Homo sapiens: one gene and its partners. The protein of the gene in region 2 interacts with the protein of the main gene of each other region in a biochemical or structural test. Each region holds a gene or a part of one and is shown on either strand. Other genes may lie near its edges. The genes, in order: MYL9, PRKAA1, PPM1F and AGAP2.

What was found.
Region 1: of the proteins of PRKAA1 (region 2) and MYL9, one has a biochemical effect on the other in vitro, tested with the Homo sapiens proteins (one study listed by IntAct).
Region 3: of the proteins of PRKAA1 (region 2) and PPM1F, one has a biochemical effect on the other in vitro, tested with the Homo sapiens proteins (one study listed by BioGRID).
Region 4: the proteins of PRKAA1 (region 2) and AGAP2 form a complex in vitro, tested with the Homo sapiens proteins (one study listed by BioGRID).

Annotation. Positions count from the first base shown.
Region 1 is NC_000020.11:36,547,331-36,552,382, reverse strand, and holds the end of MYL9 (myosin regulatory light polypeptide 9), read right to left. Parts: intron 4,352-5,052; coding exon 4,190-4,351; intron 3,307-4,189; coding exon 3,134-3,306; 3' UTR 936-3,133; downstream 1-935. UniProt on the Homo sapiens protein: Myosin regulatory subunit that plays an important role in regulation of both smooth muscle and nonmuscle cell contractile activity via its phosphorylation. Implicated in cytokinesis, receptor capping, and cell locomotion.
Region 2 is NC_000005.10:40,787,581-40,792,632, forward strand, and holds part of PRKAA1 (5'-AMP-activated protein kinase catalytic subunit alpha-1), read right to left. Parts: intron 2,625-5,052; exon of another isoform or gene 2,491-2,624; intron 2,454-2,490; exon of another isoform or gene 2,372-2,453; intron 1-2,371. UniProt on the Homo sapiens protein: Catalytic subunit of AMP-activated protein kinase (AMPK), an energy sensor protein kinase that plays a key role in regulating cellular energy metabolism.
Region 3 is NC_000022.11:21,924,682-21,929,733, reverse strand, and holds part of PPM1F (protein phosphatase 1F), read left to right. Parts: intron 1-4,071; coding exon 4,072-4,165; intron 4,166-5,052. UniProt on the Homo sapiens protein: Dephosphorylates and concomitantly deactivates CaM-kinase II activated upon autophosphorylation, and CaM-kinases IV and I activated upon phosphorylation by CaM-kinase kinase. Promotes apoptosis.
Region 4 is NC_000012.12:57,724,249-57,729,846, forward strand, and holds the end of AGAP2 (arf-GAP with GTPase, ANK repeat and PH domain-containing protein 2), read right to left. Parts: intron 5,520-5,598; coding exon 5,391-5,519; intron 4,130-5,390; coding exon 4,070-4,129; exon of another isoform or gene 3,838-4,069; coding exon 3,689-3,837; exon of another isoform or gene 3,524-3,688; coding exon 3,433-3,523; exon of another isoform or gene 3,335-3,432; coding exon 3,112-3,334; exon of another isoform or gene 2,982-3,111; coding exon 2,726-2,981; exon of another isoform or gene 2,717-2,725; intron 2,547-2,716; coding exon 2,304-2,546; 3' UTR 949-2,303; downstream 1-948. UniProt on the Homo sapiens protein: GTPase-activating protein (GAP) for ARF1 and ARF5, which also shows strong GTPase activity. Isoform 1 participates in the prevention of neuronal apoptosis by enhancing PI3 kinase activity.

The DNA of each region.
Region 1 (5,052 bases), on a different chromosome or scaffold from region 2:
CTGGGAGGTTGCCGTGAGCTGAGATCGTGCCATTGCACTCCAGCATGGGCAACAAGAGTGAAACTCTGTCTCAAAAGAGAAAAACCACAAAAATTAAAAAATTAAGGCCAGGTGTGGTGGTTCACACTTGTAATCTCACCACTTTGAGAGGCCAAGGTGGGAGGATTGCTTGAGCCCAGGAGTTTGACACCAGCCTGGGCAACATAGCAAGATCCTCTCTCTACAAAAAATAAAAAATTAGTCAGGCGTGGTGGCACAGGTCTGTAGTAGCAGCTGCTCAGGAGGCTGAGGTGGGAGAATTGCTTGAGCCCAGGAGTTCTAGGCTGCAGGGACCTATGATCACACCACTGCACTCCAGCCTGAGCAACAGAAAGACCCAGTCTGAAAAAGCTAGACAAATACTAGGAAAAAATAGAAAATTTTACAGTTTTACAATGATGTTGAGCACTTAAAAATGTATTTGGTGAGTATTTAAAATGTTCTTATTAAGTGTATGTATTTTGGCCGGGCGTGGTGGCCCACCCCTGTAATCCCAGCACTTTGGGAGGCTAAGGTGGGTGGATCACAAGGTCAAGAGATGGAGACCATCTGGCGAACATGGTGAAACCCTGTCTCTACTAAATATACAAAAATTAGCTGGGCGTGGTGGCGCACACCTGTAGTCCCAGCTACTTGGGAGGTTGAGGCAGGAGAATCACTTGAACCCGGGAGGCGGAGGTTGCAGTGAGCCGAGATCACGCCACTGCACTCCAGCCTGGGAGAAAGAGCGAGACTCTGTCTCAAAAAAAAAAGAAAAAAATAAGTATATGCATTTCTTCTGAGATTCCTTTTCATGTTACCATTTTTTTCCTACGGCGTTGTCTTTTTCTGATTCAATTACTGAAGCTTTATATAGATTAGTGTTAACTCTTGTTTTGTTAAATATGCTGCAGGTATTTCCTCCCAGAATGCATTTGGCTTTTAATTTTGCTTATGGTTTCTTTAGCTCTACAAAAAGAATGTTGACTTCATGCATTTAAATCTGCCAGTATTTTCCTTTGTGGCTTCTGGGTTTTGTGCTAGACTTGGAAAGTTCCGGGGGTCCTTTACTGCTGGTCTGTGGGTGCTGCAGGTCCTGCCTTGCCCTGCCCAGAGCACGTTCCTCTTCCCTTCCTGTGGGTCAAGGTAGCCCCCAGGCCAGTTCTGAAGCCAGTGAGGCTGGACTGGTCCTGACCTCTTCCCGCCTGTGTGCGAAGCTCTTCCGTCTTCCGTCTCGGGGTGAAGGTGGGGTGAACTGTGACAGAATCGCACGCTGGGGCTTGACATCTAGATGACGCGTCCTTGCCTCCTTCCAGAAATGCCTTTGGTGCTGCAGTGGCTCTGCTGAGAGGACCTTATGACCCTGGTGTCGGGCATGTGTGGCCAGTACCCTGGGACACTCTGAGACCCCCCTCCCACACCCTTGGGGCTGGCAGCATCGAATGGGTGGCCAGACTGAGAGTTGCCCAGGGCCGTGTGTGTAGCTGGAGGCCTGCAGCCTGCTGCCGGGGGTGAGAATGTGTTTGGGACTGAGTTTGGGATACTATTTGGGCCTGGTTTGGAACTTGTTCGGGTCTCGCCCCTTCTGGAGTTGATACCAGGGACTTTTGGGCCTCTGTTTGGAGCCAGGATGAGGAGTTTCAGCCGAGCTCTGAGCAGGGCCTGGCGTTGAGGCCTGCAGGAGGTTAGGGCCTCCTGGTCAGGCACAGGGTCCCCTGGTGCTCAGCTCCCCCTTGGCCCTGATCTGGGACCTTTGCTGAGTGCTGCGGCTGCCTGCGCTGGGTGACCTCTGGAGAAGGCCTCAGGACCAAGCTGGGTCCACTCGCTGGGGTCAGGTGGGGTGGGTCCGGCCCTCACTCTTCCCTAGGCCTATTGGGTGACCCAGGCAGTCCATGCCCCTCTGGACTCTCTGCTCAGTCATTCAGCGCTCTTTCTGCCCCTCTTAGGCCCCAGGCACTGCCATCAGTGTCCCCATCATCCACCAGTAGCAGGGGTCCCGGCCCTGCCTGCCCTGCGTACACAGGGACATGGAAAGCTGTGGCCCCCATGCTGTTGGTCCTGGGGCTGAACTCGCCCTCCACCTGCCTGGGGCTGGGAAACCCCTCATTCCCACCTCCAACCCTGAGCTGCTGGGACGCCTGCCTCATCACTGTTGGAGCCTCCCTGTTCTTCTGGAACCCGGAGCTTTAGTCCTGAGGGCTGTGTGGCCTGACCTCTGCCCCCCAAGAGGCCTGGAACCCTCCACGGGATTGGCTGTGGTGATTCCCATGGTCCTCCCTTTCCCACAAGCCCTGAGAAGGCCATGAGGCCCATTCCCTCCGTCCCCTGTCCCCTGCTGGTCTCAGCTGAGCACAGAGCCCACTTACTAGGGACTCTGGTCCCTAGAGGCTTCAGGGACCATATGGCCGGAGGACACCCAGTCCTTCCCTGGGCCAGGGTGGGAGGAGCAGGGCAGTAACTGGAGATGGCAGGAGAAGGTGGGAGAGGGTTTCAGGCCCGGGGTCCCCTTACTTCACCCCAGCCACAGACACACAGACCAGAAGCAGTGCTCAGTCCTCTATTGGAGATTCTGCCCCCTCTGGGACAGATGTCCACGCTGCCCGCGACTCCTGAGCACACTCCCATGGCGGGTGGCGTGCTCTGGGTGGGTGTGCGGCAGTGGCCGGTCAGGGTGTAGGGAAGGGGACTGAGAGGGGACCTTGGTGAGCTTGCATTTGTGTGGGGATACACGTGAAGGGGTGTCTGATCCCAGGACTCAGGGCCTCTTCCTCCTGGGGGGCACACAGAGCCCCTTCCCTTCCTCCTCGGGGAACAGCCCCGGAATGGGGCCTTCCCTTGGTGCCTCTAGGTCCTGCCCTCCAGCCCATGTCCCCAGAAGGTGGTCTTTCCTTGGAGGGGTCAGAGACTATAGCCCAGGGCTCTGGGGTCACTGTGGGAACATCTGCCTCAGCTCGGCACGCACTTCTCCTGGCCTGTTTCTTCCACTGGGAACTGGGACCCTAACCCCTCAAAGGGGGATCCCTGAGCGAGGGTCATGGGCAGGGAGCTGGTATGGACGGGTGTGTGCGGGGAGGGGTGACTGGCGGGGGCTGGGGTGTCAGGGGGCTGGGGTGGCCTAGTCGTCTTTATCCTTGGCGCCATGTTTGAGGATGCGGGTGAACTCCACGTAGTTGAAGTTGCCTTTCTTATCAATGGGTGCCTCCCGGTACATCTCGTCCACTTCCTCATCTGTGAAGCGGTCACCCATGGTGGTGAGCAGCTCCCGGAGGTGGTCCTCATGGATGAAACCTGCGGGCAGGGGCAGGGTGGGTGAGAGCAGGAACTTGGGCTGAGACATACACAGCAGCCCCATCCCTCAGCCCCCTGGCAGCTCTTGCAGACCTAGAGGGGCTGGGAAGATACAATCTTAGTCTCTGGTCAGTCTGAGGAATGAGGACGTGGCAGGAGGGGTGTGGGGGTGCACGTGAAGGGGTGTCGGATCCCACGTGAAGGGGTGCCAGGGTCCTGAGGGGAGGAGTTGTGCAGTGGGACTGTCTCCGAGGTGTCACTTGGGGAACTTGAGGCTGTGCACACAGATGGTGTTGGGTGTGCCCTGTTTTAAGCGTGAGCTCTGGAGTTCCACTGCCTGAGTTGCAGTGCTGATTCCCATTCTCCCTAGCTATGTGACTTTGGGCAAGGTCCTTAACCTCCGTGTGCCTGTTTAATCTAGAAAACAGGGATGAACGTATGCCATTGCAGTGAGGGACCGTGAAGGTAGTCAGGCCCGTGCGGGCCCATGGCCATGTTACCATGGCCATCATCACCCTGACATGTCCCTGGGAAAAATGAGCTGAGGGATGGAATATCCGTTAGGAGATCCGAGGAGGGGGGCCAGTTTCTATACCTTCTTGGCAAGAAAGGCATGAAATGGTTTGATTTCTGGAAAGGTCTAAAACAGATGGAGAATGTGCATTGGGCCAGCGGGGGAGATCACGAAGGCAGGAGTCTTGGGGCATGGGCTGTTCTGGCCTAGCCTTTGCGGCGACAATAAGGAGGTGGCCTGGCTTTTATAGTTCTGGTGACAGAACCTGGGAGATGGGTGATGTCTGTTCTGGCCCTTAGGGGCAGAGGCACTGAATGCCTGGGCCCTGTTCCACTTGCATGCAGAGTGGTGGTAGGGGGCGCCACGGACCTGAGGCTTCCTCGTCGAAGCAGGCAAAGGCGTTGCGAATCACATCCTCGGGGTCCGTGCCGTTCAGCTTCTCCCCAAACATGGTGAGGAACATGGTGAAGTTGATGGGCCCCGGGGCCTCGCTCATCATGCCCTCCAGGTATTCGTCTGTGGGGTTCTTCCCTGTGGCAGGTGGGGTGTTCCAGCCTGTGGTCCTGGGCCCTCTGTCCCCAGCTGGGACAACTTGCACCCCCGTCCCCCACCCCTGCCCTTCACCGCTCCGTGTGAGACGGGAGGTAGTGGGTTTTGTGAACTGGAAAGCATGGCTCTAGCGCAGCCACAGCAGTGGGCGCCCGGAGTCCCTGGCTGCTCCCACCAGTTTCCTCCTGTGGCCTGGATGTCAGCAGCCGGCAGTGCTCACTAAAGTGTAATAAGAACAACCCTCTGCAGACTGCTCGCTGTGGCTGGTCGACCACGTGCCTTATTGCATTTAACTTTCACCACCCTGTGAAGTCAGCATTCTTACCCACTTCACAGGTATGGAAGCTGAGGCACAGAGAGGCCAGGTGACTTGTCCAGGGTCAGACAGCAAGTAAGGAGGAGACTTGAGTAGACCTGGCATTTGAACCCAGGCAGCCTAACTCCAAAGTCCAGACACAGTGCTTTGCTGTCAGACAGGCCTGGGTTTGGATCCCAGCTGTGCACCTTGGTTTTCCCCATCTCTTAGGGGAATTGTGAAGACAGTAGTTGCAAAAGGCTCATAACAATGACTGGCACAGGCCTATGGACTGGAATCAACTGCTGGGTTTCTATTGCAGCCCCACTACTTGGTAGCTGTGTGACCTTGGGTAAATTACTTAACCTCTCTGAGCCTCAGTTTCCTT
Region 2 (5,052 bases):
TAAAAATGTAGAATGTGTGTATGTGATCAAAGTTAACTTGTTATCAGCTTATATACCAGTTATAAGATGTTTTGTGTAAGCCACAGGGTAACTACAAAGCAAAAGCCTTTGCTTTTGCAAAAGATAAAAAGAAAAAATCCAAAGTGGACCACTACAGAAAGCAATCGAGCCACAAAGGGGGAAAGTAATAGAGAAAGGGACAAAGGTTCTACAGAAACACTAGAAAACAATTAACAAAATGGCACTACTAAGTCCTTACCTATCAATAATTACTTCCAATGTAAACAGATTAAATTCTCCAAACAACAGGCATAGAGTGGCTAAATGGATAAAAAACAAGATCCAACTCTGCGCTGCCTATAAAGAGACTCACTTCACCATAAAGGACACTCATAGACTGAAAATGAAGGGACTGAAAAAGATATTCCATACAAATGCAAACAAAAAGAGAACAGAGATAGCTATATTTATTTCAGACAAAATAGACTTTAGGTCCAAAGAGAACAAAGCTGGAGGCATCACACTACCATGTTTGAAAATATATTACAAACCTATAGTAATTAAAACAGCACGGCACTGACATAAAAACAGACATGTCCACCAATGGAATAGGATGGATAGCCCAGAATAAATGCATATATCTATAATCAATGGATTTTTGACAAAGGTGCCAAGACTACACAATGTGGAAAGGACAGTCTCTTCAATAATGTCATTTGGAAAACTGGATAGCCACATACAGAAGAATGGAAATGGACCCTTATCTCACCCCTTAACAAGTATCAACTTAAAATGGATTAAATTTAGGACCTGAAATTACAAATCTACTAGAAGAAAACTTAGGCGAGAAGCTCCATGACACAGGTTTGGGCAATCATTTCTTGTATATGATCCCCTAATGCACAGGCAACAAAAGCAATAATAAACAAATGGGATGACATCAAACTAAAAAGCTTCTGAACAGCAAAAAACAAACAAACAGGCCAGACGCGTAATCCCAACACTTTGGCAGGCCGAGGCAGGCGGATCACAAGGTCAGGAGTTCGAGACCAGCCTGACCAACATGGTGAAGCCCTATCTCTACTAAAAATACAAAATTAGCTGAGCGTAGTGGTGCACACCTGTAGTCCCAGCTACTCATGAGGCTGAGGCAAAAGAATCGCTTGAACCCGGGAGGCGGACGCTGCAGTGAGCCAAGATCACGCCATTGCACTCCAGCCTGGGTGACAGAGGGAGACTGCATCTCAAAAAAACAAACAAACAAGCAAAAACAAATAGAGTGAAGAGACAACCCAAAGACTGAGAAAACGTATTTACAAATCATGCATCAGATATATAGCTAATATCCGGCCAGGCATGGTGGCTCATGCCTGTAATCTCAGCACTTTGGGAGGCCGACGCGGGTGGATCACTTGAGCCCAAGAATACAAGACCAGTCTAAGCAACACAGTGAGACCTTGTCTCTATAAAACATACATAAATTAGCCAGGCGTGGTGGTGTATGCCTGTAGTCCCAGCTACTTGGGAGGCAGAGGTGGGAGGATCGCTTGAGCCCAGGAGGTCAAGGCTGCAGTGAGCCATGATCATGCCACTGCACTCCAGCCTGGGCAACAGAGTGAGACACTGTCTCAAAAATAAAAATAAAAAAAAAGACAAACAAATGGCCAACAGATAGATGAAAGAATGCTGAACATCTCTAATCATAAGAGAAATGCAAATTAAAGCCACAATAAGGTATCACCTCACACCTGTTAGACTGGCTATTATCAAAAAGGTGAAAGATAAGTGTTAGCAAGGTCACAGAGAAATGGAACACTTATACACTGCTGGTGAAACTATAAATACAGCCATTTTGTAAAACAGTGTAGAGGTTCCTCACAAAACTAAAAATAGAATTACTATATGATCCAGCAATCCCATTACTGAGTATATATCCAAAGGAATTGAAATCAGTATGTCAGAGGTGTCTGAGACTCACTTATATTTGGAATCTAAAAAAGTCAAACTCACAGAAGTAGAGAGTAGAATGGTGATTACCAGTAGCTGGGGTAAGTGGGGCTGGAGGGGAAAAGGAAGATATTGGTCAATGGCTACATAAAATTACAGTCAGGAGGAACAGGATCCTGGTGTTGTATTGCATAGCATCATGATTACAGTAAATATATTAATTTTTCAAAAGAGTTAAAAAAGGGAACTTTAAATGTTCTCACCACAAAGAAATGATAAATATTTGAGGAGATGGATATACTACTTGGCCTGATTTGATCAGTGCAGAATGTATACATGTATCAAAACATCACATTGTGCCCCATAAATATATACAATTGTTATTTATTAAAGATAGATTTTCTTTTTTATTTACTTATGGTAGGAATGGCCTTCATTGGTTGCAATAGGAAGCGAAAGAGGAGACCTGAAATCAAATGAAAAAGCGTAAGCATCCTGGGGAGAAGCCCACTGGATCTCAGTTCTGCCCTGCTCAGGAAAGTTCAGTATCCAGGTGACTGAGAACAGAACCGGCTGGCACCAAAGACATGATTTTGAGGGGGCCGGAGCCCTTTCCCTTTGCCTCCATACATAACAGGAGCAGGACCACACACTCAGTCCCTGACAAGAAAAGGAGGGTGGATTTTCTAAACTATGATATTCACCATTAAAATTAACAAGTTAACAGAAGTAATATTTTTTGAAAACAGGTTTTCTAATTGTACTACACATGATCATGACTTCTTAAATGGAACACATGTACATGAAGACTGGGAACCAAACAAATGTTAACTTATGAGTATCAACTGCTCCTTATACCCTCACACAGTGACAGCAGTGGGAGTTATTTAGCAGGATAGGGCTTTTTGCTCCCAGCCTATAGTGTTCCAGCTCGTGTGGTTTTCCGCTTTTTGAATTTGTATCCCAGCCTTCATAGTCTATCAGGAGTCAACTCTTTCTTTTTTTTTTTTTTTGTTGTTGTTGTTGTTGTTGAGATGGAGCCTCGCTCTGTCGCCAGGCTGGAGTGCAGTGGCACAATCTCGGCTCACTGCAACCTCTGCCTCCGGGGTTCAAGCAATTCTCCTGCCTCAGCCTCCCGAGTAGCTGGGACAACAGGCGCATGCCACCACACCCAGCTGATTTTTGTATTTTTAGTAGAGATGGGGTTTCACCATGTTGGCCAGGATGGTCTCAATATCTTGAGCTCGTGATCTGCCCGCCTTAGCCTCCCAAAAGTGCTGGGATTACAGGCGTGAGCCACCACACCCGGCCTTCAGTAGCATAATACTTTTTAAAATATGGCATCTAATAGCTTAGGAGACACTCACATTATCACATTTGAGCATAAACCTATGATGGAGGTATTGTCTTTTACAGATAAAGAAACTGAGGCTCTAAGAGATTCTGTAAGTTGTGGAAGTAAAGCTATTGTGATCAAGTTGGGACAGGTCTTCCGACTCCCAAGTCTTTTGACCTATCCACTCTCCCCACCATCACTGTGCAGTGAGAGGGACAAAGGGCTTGGCATGGTATCAGAAACTAAACTGTTTTCTCAAAACCAGGCTAAATATTCTCCCCAGTGAGTAAACTCAGTTGTAGCCAAACTAAATGCTGTTCCATAGTCAATCAATGAATGTAGTAAATGGACTCTGTCAGGCATATGCACTACTAAGGGATTCCCCCCTTTTTCAAAATTCAAACTTTATTCTTCAGACTGTCAGTTTTTAGAATAGTGCTAAGGTTTTGCTTTTAAATGAAACGGAAGACAGATATTTTGGCCACGGAAGACTTGCACATTACTCAGAGCAAATATTACCAGCATTCACAATGTCCCCCTCACAAGAATAGCAGATTAGTCAACTAAATATTAGCTAACAACCATGCTATTGCTATCTAAAGGGAACTTTGTCTAACTGCATAACATTGTAACAAATGCTCTTCTAATTAGATATATAATCCTGAAGGGAAACAAGATCATACTTTGAAACAGAGGATTTTAATAGGACAGAGAAGCAGCAAAGATAGAAATATCTACTAAAGATATTCTAGACACCTAACCATTTCATTCCCACTTTAAAATTGAAAGAATAAAAACGTGTTAAGGAAATAGCTTAATCCTGGGGAAGGGTGGGCTTTAAAAGCTATAGATCGTAATTTAAGAAAGCAAACAAACATTTCAAGCACACCAAGGGCATTCCAAATACCCATGAGCCACCATCAGCTTAAGCAATAAAACATTACAAATACAACTCAAGCCCTGCATGACTCCTCCCAGATTCCCTTATCCTTCATCTGTCCTCAGAAGTAACCACTATCCTGAATTTGGTGTTTGTGTTTCCCACGTTTAAATATTTTTACATGGGTAGGAATCCATAAAAAATATAGTAACATTATTTTTCATATTTATTTTTACAAATGTCATTGCATATATTTTGATAACACAATACCTGCACTATACACACAGTTCAAAAGTACAAAAGCATCTATGGTGCAACACAATGTCCTCCTTTACCTAGTCCCCTATACTGAGCAACTAACGTAACCAGTCTTGTGTGTATCTTTAAAGAGACATACTCTATATATAAAAGCAGTCACATTTAAGATACAGATTTGCCCCTGCCTTTTATACATAAGTGGTAGGCATATTGAACACACTGTTCTACTTTTTCCTCTTAAAAATACACCTTGGAAATTGTTCTCTAAAATATACAAAGTTCCTCCCTTTTTCTTCCTTAATGTTTGCAAGGTATTTCACTATATGGATAAACCATAACTATTACTATTAGAAAGGTTACTTCGAAAGTTTTGTATTAATATTTACAACAATATGGCAGCGAATAACCCATTATTTCATACACGAGTACATCTATAAAATAATTCCTAGAAGTTGAATTGTTAGGTTAATTTTAATAAATGCTGTCACTCTCTCATGTAGAGGTAGGATACCAATTTATACTCTACCAGCATTGTATGAGTGGTTCTGTAGGTTTCTAAAATTTATATAAATAACAGCAAACTATACATATTCTTATACAACTTGCTTTCGAGGTCTAACCTTATATTTTT
Region 3 (5,052 bases), on a different chromosome or scaffold from region 2:
CAGAGCACACCGCCAAAGTCACAGATAGTCTCTGCCACTCCCCTGCCTCCACCACCGTGGGGGAATTTGGCACCTGCTCCCTAGTGGGCTCTCCTCCCCAGGATATGCAGTCAGATGAAATGTGGCCAAGTCAGGATTCGTGCTGGGCCCACTCCCACCTGCTGCCTGCACACCTACAGGCTCAGCATTCAGCACCCCATTAAAGCCCAGTGGGGGCTCTGTTCAAACACTGCCTGAGTCCTGCAGTATGGCGTCGTGGCAGAGCATGGACAGATGGCCTTGCCTGGTCCCGGCTCCACCGCTTCCAAGTCCATCACACAGGGGTCCCTGGAGGTTTGGGGTAAGGATTGAGTGTCCCAGTGCATGTGGAGCACAGAGATCAGAGCTTGCACAAGAGAAGCACACACAGGTGTCTGTGTTCTTGGCTGCAGCCCGCATGGGCCAAGGAGTTCAGATCCAGTGCCCCCCACCTCCCCTTTCCTGCCGCCATGCTCTGTAGGCTTGGCCCCTCCTGCTGTGATCCTGATCACAGCCTTCCACCCTAGAGAATTAATCACAGATCCAGGCCAAGGTTCTCCCACAAAAACAAGCATCATGTCGGTTACAAGAGCAAGAAACTGGCCTCAACTTGGCGAGCTTCAACGGGGGTCCAGCAGCGGCCCAGAGCAGCTTCCAGGAGTACGTGGGGGGAGTGCGTGGTGCTCTGCCTTGTTCTGCGGCTGTCTGAACAGTCTCCTGCCTCTGCACTCAGTTCAGCCTCCAAACACTGAGTGCCCACTCTGCACAAGATACTTTGTTGAGGCAGTGAGATAACACAGGACCCACTTCCTGCCTCTAAGTCTAATGGGGGAGCAGGAGGAGGGCAAGGACCTGGCAGGATGAGGCAGAGAGATGAATGGAATGGAGCCGCATCTCAGGCAGTTGCAATTCCTGCAGGCCAGGGGAGAGACCAGGAGGAAAGGGCAGGTTATGCCAGAATCAGGGCCAGGTGTGGAGGTGTGCCCCAAGTGATCCTCCCACCTCTCAAGCCTCAGGAGACAGGAGGATGGCTTGAGCCCTAGAGGTTGAGGCTGCAGTGAGCTATGTTCATGACACTGCACTCCAGCCTTGGCAACAGAGTGAGACCCTGTCTTCAAAAAACAAAAACAAGCCCCAGAATCAGTGGGTAGAAGACTCGGGGCAGGGGAGAAGACCACCCACCTGCTGCTCCTTCAGCTGGAAAAGCTGGACTGCCCCAGGCTGGGAGGAACTCTGTAAGGACTCACTAGAAGCTTCTGAAGTGATCAGGCCACTGGAGGACAAGTTGAGGGCTGGGTCACAAAAGTGAGTTCAGGAGGGCAGTGAGAGTCACTCAAGGTCACAGGTCACGCTGGCACGCCTGGCAGGCAGCCTGGGAGAGATAGGAGTCCCGGCTCTGCAGGTGGAGACATCGCAGAGGGCCTTGGGCATCCAGGAGGATGGCAGTGCCATAGGCGACGCTGCTGCGGCCTGGCCGTGTGGAGCACTGCACTCCTAGGAAGCAGGAAATGGCTGTTCACAGGAACCCACAGGCCACCGGCTCCAGCTTTGACCTGGGAAGCTGTTTCAGGCAGGTGGAGAGGATGAGGTTTGAGGAGCAGAGGGAAGAGCTGCTGAGGGGGTGGGCGCTGGGCAGTCGGGAGGCGAAGGCAGGAGATGGCTTGAGCCCTAGAGGTCGAGGCTGCAGTGAGCTATGTTCATGACACTGCACTCCAGCCTTGGCAACAAAGCAAGACCCTGTCTCCAAAAAAAAAAAAAAAAAAAAAAAAAAAACAAAACAAAAAACAGAATCAAGAATCAGTGACTAGGAGACTCAGGGGGAATGGGACAAGACCCCTTAGCCTGGGGATATGTTAGTCCCGGACCAGACTGAGCCTGGCCAGTGTGTGACGGAGGTGGGAGCCACTGGAGGGGAGGAGGACCCAGGTTCAGGGCCAGGGTTAGAGGGGCGAGCCCGGGGAGCCGGCGCAGCCTGTCCAGCACAGGGGGTGCAGAATGGCAGGAGAGGGGATCACAGGCTGCAGGGGAGCAGCACAGCCCCTGTGCCCTCCTGCCCTTTGGCTCCACCCTGTCCCACAGCCATCCCTGGTGGTGGGGAGGGGCTTCAGGTAGGAAGGTTCTAAGCTTAGCCTGCATGGCCCCCTGTGGGGGAGAGCCACCTCCAGAGGGCATGGGAAGCAGATTGCCGTTCATTCTCCATCACCTGCCCACATTCCTGCCTCTGGGACATTGAGGGGCTGGAGTGGGCTGGGGTGTGTGGGAGACAGAAGCAGAGAAAGGCTCCTCATTCTCCCTGGAGCCTCCCACGCTCACAGCCCCTCCCCAGGGAACGCCTCTGAGGCACAGGGGAGGAGGCGCTGCTTCCTCTGCAGCTCCTCGCCGTCTGCAGGCGCCTTCACGCGTGTGTGTGGGCACATGTATGTGTGAACATTCGTGCGTACTCTGTGTTCATCCACCTGCCTCTCCCCGTGCCCTTTCTCCTGCCCTCTTCTTGGCTGTCTCCTGCTCTTCCCTCCTTCCTGGTCCTCCTTGCCTTTCCCTTGCCCTGCTCAGACCCCGGAGGTGGCAGATCTTAGACCCAGAGAGAGCCTTGAGGTCCCTGTTCCTGCCCCCTTCATGGCTTGATTCTCCACCTCAGCTGGGACAGGAGCACCCAGCCTACCAGGCACTGGTCCAGTTCCCACACAGGCTCATGGCTGCAGTGCCCAGGAAGGCCGGGACTCCTGCAAACCCATGTCATTCCCACCACAATGCCCTCTGCAGGGGAGCCACATAAAGAGGCCTGGTCCTTGGTGCAGGCATCTGGAGAGGGCTGCCTCCCCCAGGCCTCCCGCAGTGCATGTCCGTCTGCTCTGGGGAGGGAATTGGCTGATATCCCAATCTGTCTAGGGGACACCATCACCTGGGGCATCAGAGTTCTCATGCCCAGCTGGTGCTGTGCCTGGGGACTAGAAGGGCTGGTGCTGCGTGGGGTCAAGAGGTTTACCTGATAAACCGGTAAGGGATGCCCTCTTCCCCCAGTAGACTTGGGAGGTGCCTCACTCCCAGGGTGCCTCCGTCACTCTGTCAGGGATGCTGTTGTGCAGGCTTCAGTCAGCAGGCTCTCATCGGGGCAGCCTCTCCTTTGGGCAGAGGCTGATAGGACCAAAGAGGTTTCTAGAGGACTTGTGGGTGGACCAAGCCTCTGTCCTGTCCCTGGAGGAACCCAGGCCTGGGGTGTTGTGGTCCCCAGCTGAGTGGAGACTGTGCCTGTGCTGAGCTTGGGTAGAGGAGGACAAGAACTAGGCCAGGCGCGGTGGCTCACACCTGTAATCCCAGCACTTTGGGAAGCCGAGGAGGGTGGATCATGAGGTCAGGAGATCGAGACCAGTCTGGCCAACTTTGAGAAACCCTGTCTCCATTAAAAACACAAAAAAATTAGCTGGGCATGGTGGCACGCCCCTGTAGTCACAGCTACTCAGGAGGCTGAGGCAGGAGAATCACTTGAACCCAGGAGGCAGAGGTTGTAGTGAGCCAAGATCGTGCCACTTCACTCCAGCCAGGTGACAGAGCGAGACTCTGTCTCAAAAAAAAAAAAAAAAAAGAACTGGGCGGGCACAGGCTGCCGTCAGGGCCTCGCTCAGGCTTCCCTGCTGTGTGACCACTCACGTCACATGCTCCATCTTGGCCCAGCAGCTTTCAGGGCAGAGACGGTGTCCCCGAGCTAGAGACAGGGAAGCAGAAGGATCTGCTGTCTGTGTCGGGCTCGCAAGCCTCGTGAGTGCCTCCCTGACCCAGAATGCTGCCCAGGGGCGCAGGCACCGCTAGGCGGCCTCAGGTGGTCCGTTCATTTCACCATTCCTGCAACTAAAGGACTTGTGGGTTGTGTATAATTTCTCACTGTTTTTGATGAGCCTCGTTTGGGTGCATCTCTGAGCCTCCTGGCTTTGTTCCAGTGCTGCGGCTTTGAATGCTGCTGTCTTAGAAGCAGCTGTGCCTCTGCTCAGGTAGCAGCAGGGGGCTTCACGCCCCATCCCCCCGGCCCTGCCCCCAACTCTGGCTGTGTTTCTGCAGGATGAGAAGGCGCGCATTGAAGCATTGGGTGGCTTTGTGTCTCACATGGACTGCTGGAGAGTCAACGGGACCCTGGCCGTCTCCAGAGCCATCGGTGAGAGCCAAAGAGGCCGACCCAAGTGGGAGAAGGTCTCTCGGAAGCCCAGGCCTCGAGTGTGGCCCGCGGCTCACCAGGGGTTCAGGGAGGCAGTGTGATGGGCCGAGGGGGATTTGTCATGCACTGGGGTGATACCCTCGTAGTGTGAAGGGAACAGGGCAGATTCAGAGACTGCAGCACCAGTGTCTGAGTGTAAGTTACACTGTATGTTATTATCTCACCTAAAACAGCTCCTACAAATCTCATAGAAACCTGTGGCTCACCACCCTATGGGCTGGAAGTAGAGCTTCCAATATTCCGGAAATGAGGTTTATCCTCCTCCCGCGTTCATGCTGACAATCCTTTTTTCTCTTTTGGGAAAAAAGTGGGTTCGCTGGGCGCGGTGGCTCACGCCTGTAATCCCAGCACTTTGGGAGGCCGAGGTGGGTGGATCACCTGAGGTCGGGAGTTCGAGACCAGCCTGATGAAACCCCATGTCTACTAAAAAAAAAATACAAAAAATTAGCCAGGCATGGTAGTGAGCCCCTGTAATTCCAGCTATTCAGAAGGCTGAGGCAGGAGAATCACTTGAACCCAGAAGGCGGAGGTTGCAGTGAGCTGAGATCGCGCCACTCCACTCCAGCCTGGATAACGAGGAAAACTCTGTCTCAAAAAATAATAATAAAAATAAATAAAAATTTTAAAAAGTAATGGGTCTGGCTGGGCATGCTGGCTCACGCCTGTAATCCCAGCACTTTGGGAGGCCAAGGTGGGCGGATCACCTGAGATCGGGAGTTCGAGACCAGCCTGGCCAACATGGTGAAACCCCTTCTCTACAAAAAATACAAAGTTAGCCAGGTGTGGTGGCACGCGCCTGTAATCTCAGTTACTTGGGAGGCTGAGGG
Region 4 (5,598 bases), on a different chromosome or scaffold from region 2:
GGTGGGCACCAAGGGTCAGAAGCAATTCTACCCAAAGATGCTGGTGCTACCAACTAACTCCTCAAGGTAGATAACAACATATGGCTGTGCCCAACCTGCACTGGCTGCTGACCCAACCCTACCCTGTCCAGCCCCTCTACCTGAGTAAACACTTTCAGCTGCCCTCGAGAAATGGTAGGATTGGCTATGTGCTGAGCCTAGTGGCACTGCAGCTCATGGAGGCAGCACCGGCTTCAGGCCGCTGTGGCCTTGGTGGTCCCTTTGATGGCACGGAGGTGGATAAATGCCTGCATCAGCTGACACTGAGTTTGTGGACACCAGGGACCTCTGCAGCTAGCTGGGAAATCTTTCCCAGGAGGTCTCCCACCCCTTCCCTCTGGAACACCCCCTGACGAGGCCAGGGGAGGAACCCCTACTCTATGTTCTACTCTGGTACCTAGTGCTCACGGTGAGCAGGCTGGCTCGGGGCAGCCCTCCTCAGAGCTGGAGCGCCTTTCAGGTGCCCTCTGAACAGATACTGTTCAGAATACAGATAAACAGATGCCACCAAGGTCCCCTAGCTGTGCAGTGGAGGGGCAGGTTTCAAAATCAGATCTGTCTCCAAAGTTCCTGCTCTTAAACAAAGCTGTCCCATCTTCCCACCCCTCTCCATGGGCCTGTCCTCTCCTCTAAGTACCATATCCCAACTCTCCCAGGACTGGCATCATCTTAAGAGTCAGTGCCTTCTCTGTTCCCAGGGTCCCCACTGACTCCAACCTGCCCACGTCCTCCACTACATGAACCCAGAACTGTTGTACATGATGGAACCACCTCCATGCCCATGGGTACTGTCCTGCCACCAGCCCCAGTGGGAGGCACCTCTGCCTGTCCCTGTCCAACCCCAGTACCCCATCTTGACCAAGGCCATGCCCTGACCTGCCTCCAAGAACAGACCAGCAGCTCACCCCCTAGACAAAATCACTTCCTCTTTAATTGCTGTTGAAGAAGATTCACACCACTGCCTCCAAGGAGATGGGGGGGCATTTCCCCCTTGCCCCCACCTCTCTCCCCTCCCCAATTACCTGGTCCTTTGCAAACTATTTTAGCCAGAAAAAAAAAAAAAAAAAAAGACCGGAAACCACTGACACAGACAGCCCAAGGGCTGGGTTGGCTGAGGGAGGCAGGGCTGGGCCAGGTAAGTCCGCCCTATCACCCAGTTTGTGGGGAAGGGGCAGGGGGCCTGGAAACCCTCCCAGCCACCTCGAATCCTCTCAGCCCTGGCTGGGAGAGGTCACGGGGGTGAGGAATGGCTCTGGAGCTGCTCCAGTGGGAGGGAGGGGCTGGACAGAAAGAATAATGGGGGAGGGGTCCCACTGTAGGGGTGCCCCCTACCCCAGATCACCACGGGCGCTGCACAGTCACAGGTACGCAGTCACGGTCACAGACACAACCCGAGAGCACCCCCACCCCAACCCACCCCCTGCCCACCCTGGGCTTCCCCTACCCCAAAACGCCCTCCCCACGCCCCTGCCCGCCCCCATCCCCATGTTGGGGAACAAAGCAATAAATTACAAGGCCCCCGCAGCCCTCTTAGCCCGCTCCTGCTCCATCCCTTCTCCCTCCCAAGATAGTAGTGGGAGGGACCCAGGCTCTTGGTTCCCCCCGGACTCTTTAGCTTCCACCCATGGGTAGGTGTAGGGGACGTCCTGGTTTCCACTACTCACGGTCCCTTTCACGGAAAGGGTTGGGAACCCCCACCCCCATGAGCAGCAGGGGTCCTGCCCCTCGCTGCCCTTGCCCCCTTCACTGGGCAGTGAGATGAGCATGGAAGGGGTAGGGTTTCCGTATTGGCCCCAAGTCCCGGGGCTAGCCCTCCCATGTACTAAACCCTCCCTCTGGCGTGGCGTCGCCCCAGGAGCCAGCCTGGGTATGGGCTCCCGCCCTGGGATTGTTGAGCTCGGGCAGGACCGGGTCTTCTTTCCGCCCCTAGGGGGCACAAGCGGGCATGTCCAAGCGCCTAGGAGCCCGTACCGCTGGGGACCTCCCCTTCCGCGAACCCCGAGCGGGTAGACCCAGAGCAATCCGAGTGTGGAAACAATGGAGAGGGGGCGTGTTGAGCTGGGGTCTCCATGCCTCGTTGGGGAGAGGGAGGTGAGTTTGTGTCTTCTGGAAGGCGTGGGGGCTGTGCCCTCGTGGGGGTAGGAAGTGCTCCCGTGGGGCGGGGTGCGGATCGGAGAGGTGAGTGGGTGCGTCTGTCCAGCGGTCCGCCCGGTGTGGTCGTGCCCGGCCCGCGTGGGGATGGGGGTGTCTCTCCCGCTGGGCAACTATACCAGCGCAACCGGGGCGTCGGCGCGGCCCACGCTAGCGGCGCTGCTCCGGCGGCGGGGGCTGGGCGTGGCGGTGATGCTGGGCGTGGTGGCCGCGCTGGGCGTGGTGGCCGCGCTGCCGCCCTCACCCGGGCAGCCGTGCTGGAGAAGGATGTCGGCGCACAGCTGGCTTCCAGCCTGGCGGGCGTAGAACAGCGCCGTGCGGCCCTGGGCGTCACGGGCCGCCACGTCCGCGCCGTACTAGAGGGCGGAAACGGCCGCGTGACCGCGCGTCCCCAGGGCGCCCACACCCGGCGCCGCCTCCCCCACATGGCCAAGCCTACTTCCGGGGTCCCTCTGGGAATTTCGGGCTTTCCCGCGCCAGGCGTTTTCCGAGATGAAGCCTCAAAGACCCCCTTTCCTCCCCCCAGCTCACGTACCCACAGCAGCAGTTGCGTGATGACGACGTGGGCGAGCTCGGCCGCCAGGTGGAGTGGGGAGCGCAGCTGTGGGTCCTCTACGCTGGTGTCGAGCGGCCCGTGTCGCGCATGGGCCAAAAGCAGGAGAACGGTAGCCACGTCCTGGGCCTGCACGGCGGCCCACAGCTGGCGGCCCAGCGGCTCCTCCGAGGTGCTCAGCGGCGCCAGGAACAGTAGCTGCTCGTACTTGGCGCGAATCCACGACTCGCGCTCCTCCCTGCAAGACCAGGGATCAACGGAAAAGGCTCTAGGGACCCCCAGCCAGGACTTCTGCCCCTACCCACGGGACCGTCTCAGGTTCGCACACCCTCAGCAACCCTCCCCCCGCTCTGTTCCCTCACGCTTACCGCGAAGAGTCCCGCGAGGGCTTGGCACGGCCTCGCGTGTCGCTTTCCCACACGCGGTTGGCCGTGTCGTTGCCAATAGCCGTCAGCACCAGGGTCAGCTCCCGTGGCCAGTCGTCCAAGTCCAGCGAGCGAACGCGGGACAGGTGTGTGCCCAGGTTGCGGTGGATGCCAGAACACTCGATGCAGATGAGGGCGCCCAGGTTCAAGCTGGCCCACGTGGGGTCTGCGGAAGGAGCGTAGAGGTCGGCTCCCAGCCGGGCAGCACAGGCACCCCGGCATTCACTACACTCCCTAGCCCCTCCGCTGCCTCCTGGCACTCACTGGGGGCCCCGCAGTCCACGCAGATTGAATTCCCCTTGGCGTTCCGGATCGCCTGGATGGCCACGGCCTCGCTTTGGCTGTCTGTGCGCAGCTGCAGAGAGGGTTTGGGTTGGCACTGACTCTGCCTCCAAGCCCCACCTCCTTCTCAGACACCTCTGCTCTCCTCTCACACGACTTCGGCCGTGTCGTTGCCAATGGCCGTCAGCACCAGGGTCAGTTCCTGCGGCCAGTCCTCCACTCCACCTCAAACTCTTACCTTGACCTTGCTGCTCTCACAGCATTGCAGACTGGCTAGGATCTGACTCTCGATGGCCTGGACCCAGGCATCCCGCTCCTCAAAACTGGCTGCCTCAAAGTGCCACGTCTGACCCGTGCTGGACACGATCAGGAACTCAAAGTTTTCCTCTGAGTGGGGGATGGGATGGGGTCATTAAGGGACAGAGTTCAAGCAGGGGCTGCCTTTCCCAAGACCGTCCTCCCTGATGTCCATCCCGAGCCCCTGGGAGTGGGGCAGTGGGGGTAGGGAAAGCAGAGGGTGGGGGGCAGCAGGAAGCCCGAGCACATGCAGGGGAAGGCGGGGGCACCCCCACCCTTCTGCACCCCAGCTGAGCGCCCCTCCCGGCTCCCCACTTGTTACCTGCTTTATAAATATTTCTTAAACTACCAAAGGATTTTAGTTTCCACATTTTGCGCTTGGCTGGTTTCCCGAAGCGAAGGAGATAGAGATAGAATGGAGAGCAGAACAGAGAAAGAGAGACCAAGAAAGAAGGAGAAAAAGACAGGTAGATGGAGAGATGGAGAGAGATAGTGACAGAGTGCCAGAGACAAAGCAGGACAGACAGATGGGGAGAGAAAGCAGAACTAAAGTCAGTGGCCCCGGAGCAGAGTGGAACAGAAGCCAAGAGCCATGAGAGTAGGCAGATCTGGAACCTGGGTCTGAGCACCCGGCAGAGAGCAGGGGCAGCAGGGATGGGTTATCAAGACCAGCGAGGAGCTGGACCTCTGGGAGAAGAAGGGAGGGTCAGGATCTGAGTGAACACGGGGGAAGGGGACAGAAGCTGGGGCGCAGGGCTGAGATGAGAGGGCCCTGGGGCTGGTGGCGGTGGGGGTGCGGGGAATCACTGAGGGACAAGAATGGGGATCACTATGGTCAAGGGCTGTTGGGGAGCACTTGGCAATAGAAAGTTATCGGGAGAAGGCCGGGCACGGTGACTCATGCCTGTAATCCCCACCGCCTGTAATCCCAGCACTTTGGGAGGCCGAGGCGGGCAGATCACGAGGTCAGGAGATCAAGACCATCCTGGCTAACACAGTGAAACCCAGTCTCTACTAAAAAATACAAAAAATTAGCCGGGCATGGTGGCAAGTGCCTGTAGTCCCAGCTACTTGGAAGGCTGAGGCAGGAGAATGGTGTGAACCCGGGAGGCAGAGCTTGCAGTGAGCCGAGATCGCACCACTGTACTCCAGCCTGGGTGACAGAGTGAGACTCCATCTCAAAAAAAAAAAAAAAAAAGAAAAGAAAAAAAAAAGAAAGAAAGTTATTGGGAGAAGGGGCTGGGTGGTCACAGAATCCAGGATCTGGGGAATCAGTGGGAGATGCTGAGATAAGGGGCTGAATCACTGGGGATCAGCGGGGCTGCCGGGTGCAGGGGCTGGGGTGGTAAGTGGAGTTGAGGGAAGGAAGAGGAACTAGAACGTCATTAGGAGAGGGAGCAGGAGCTATAGACATGGACATCGTTGAGAACAGGGGCTGGGGAAAGGAATTAGCTGGGGAACAAGGAAAGAAGGACAGGGGCTGGGGGATGTCCATCCACTCTTTCACTAAGTTGTGTGCAGTGGTAATGGTAGTCAAGCACTCAGCTCAGGCACTTTTCCTCCTGCTGCAGGAGTTAGGCCAGGGAGCTGATGTTGGGGATGAGGGTTCTGGGTGGGAGTGGAAGTGCCTGCCAGAGCCTCACCTTCAGCCTGCCCAGCCGAGCCTTCAGTCTTGGATGGTGTTGTCAATTTTTTCCTCCTCTGCTTCTTCACCATGGGAGAAGGAGGGGGTTCCCGACTCAGGGGGCTCAGGTCTCCAGATGGGGTACAGTCTTAGGGAGGAAGACACAGCTGCCTCAGTAGCCCCCTCCACAGATTTCCTGATTTCTTGATAGCCTGTCTCATTCCCTG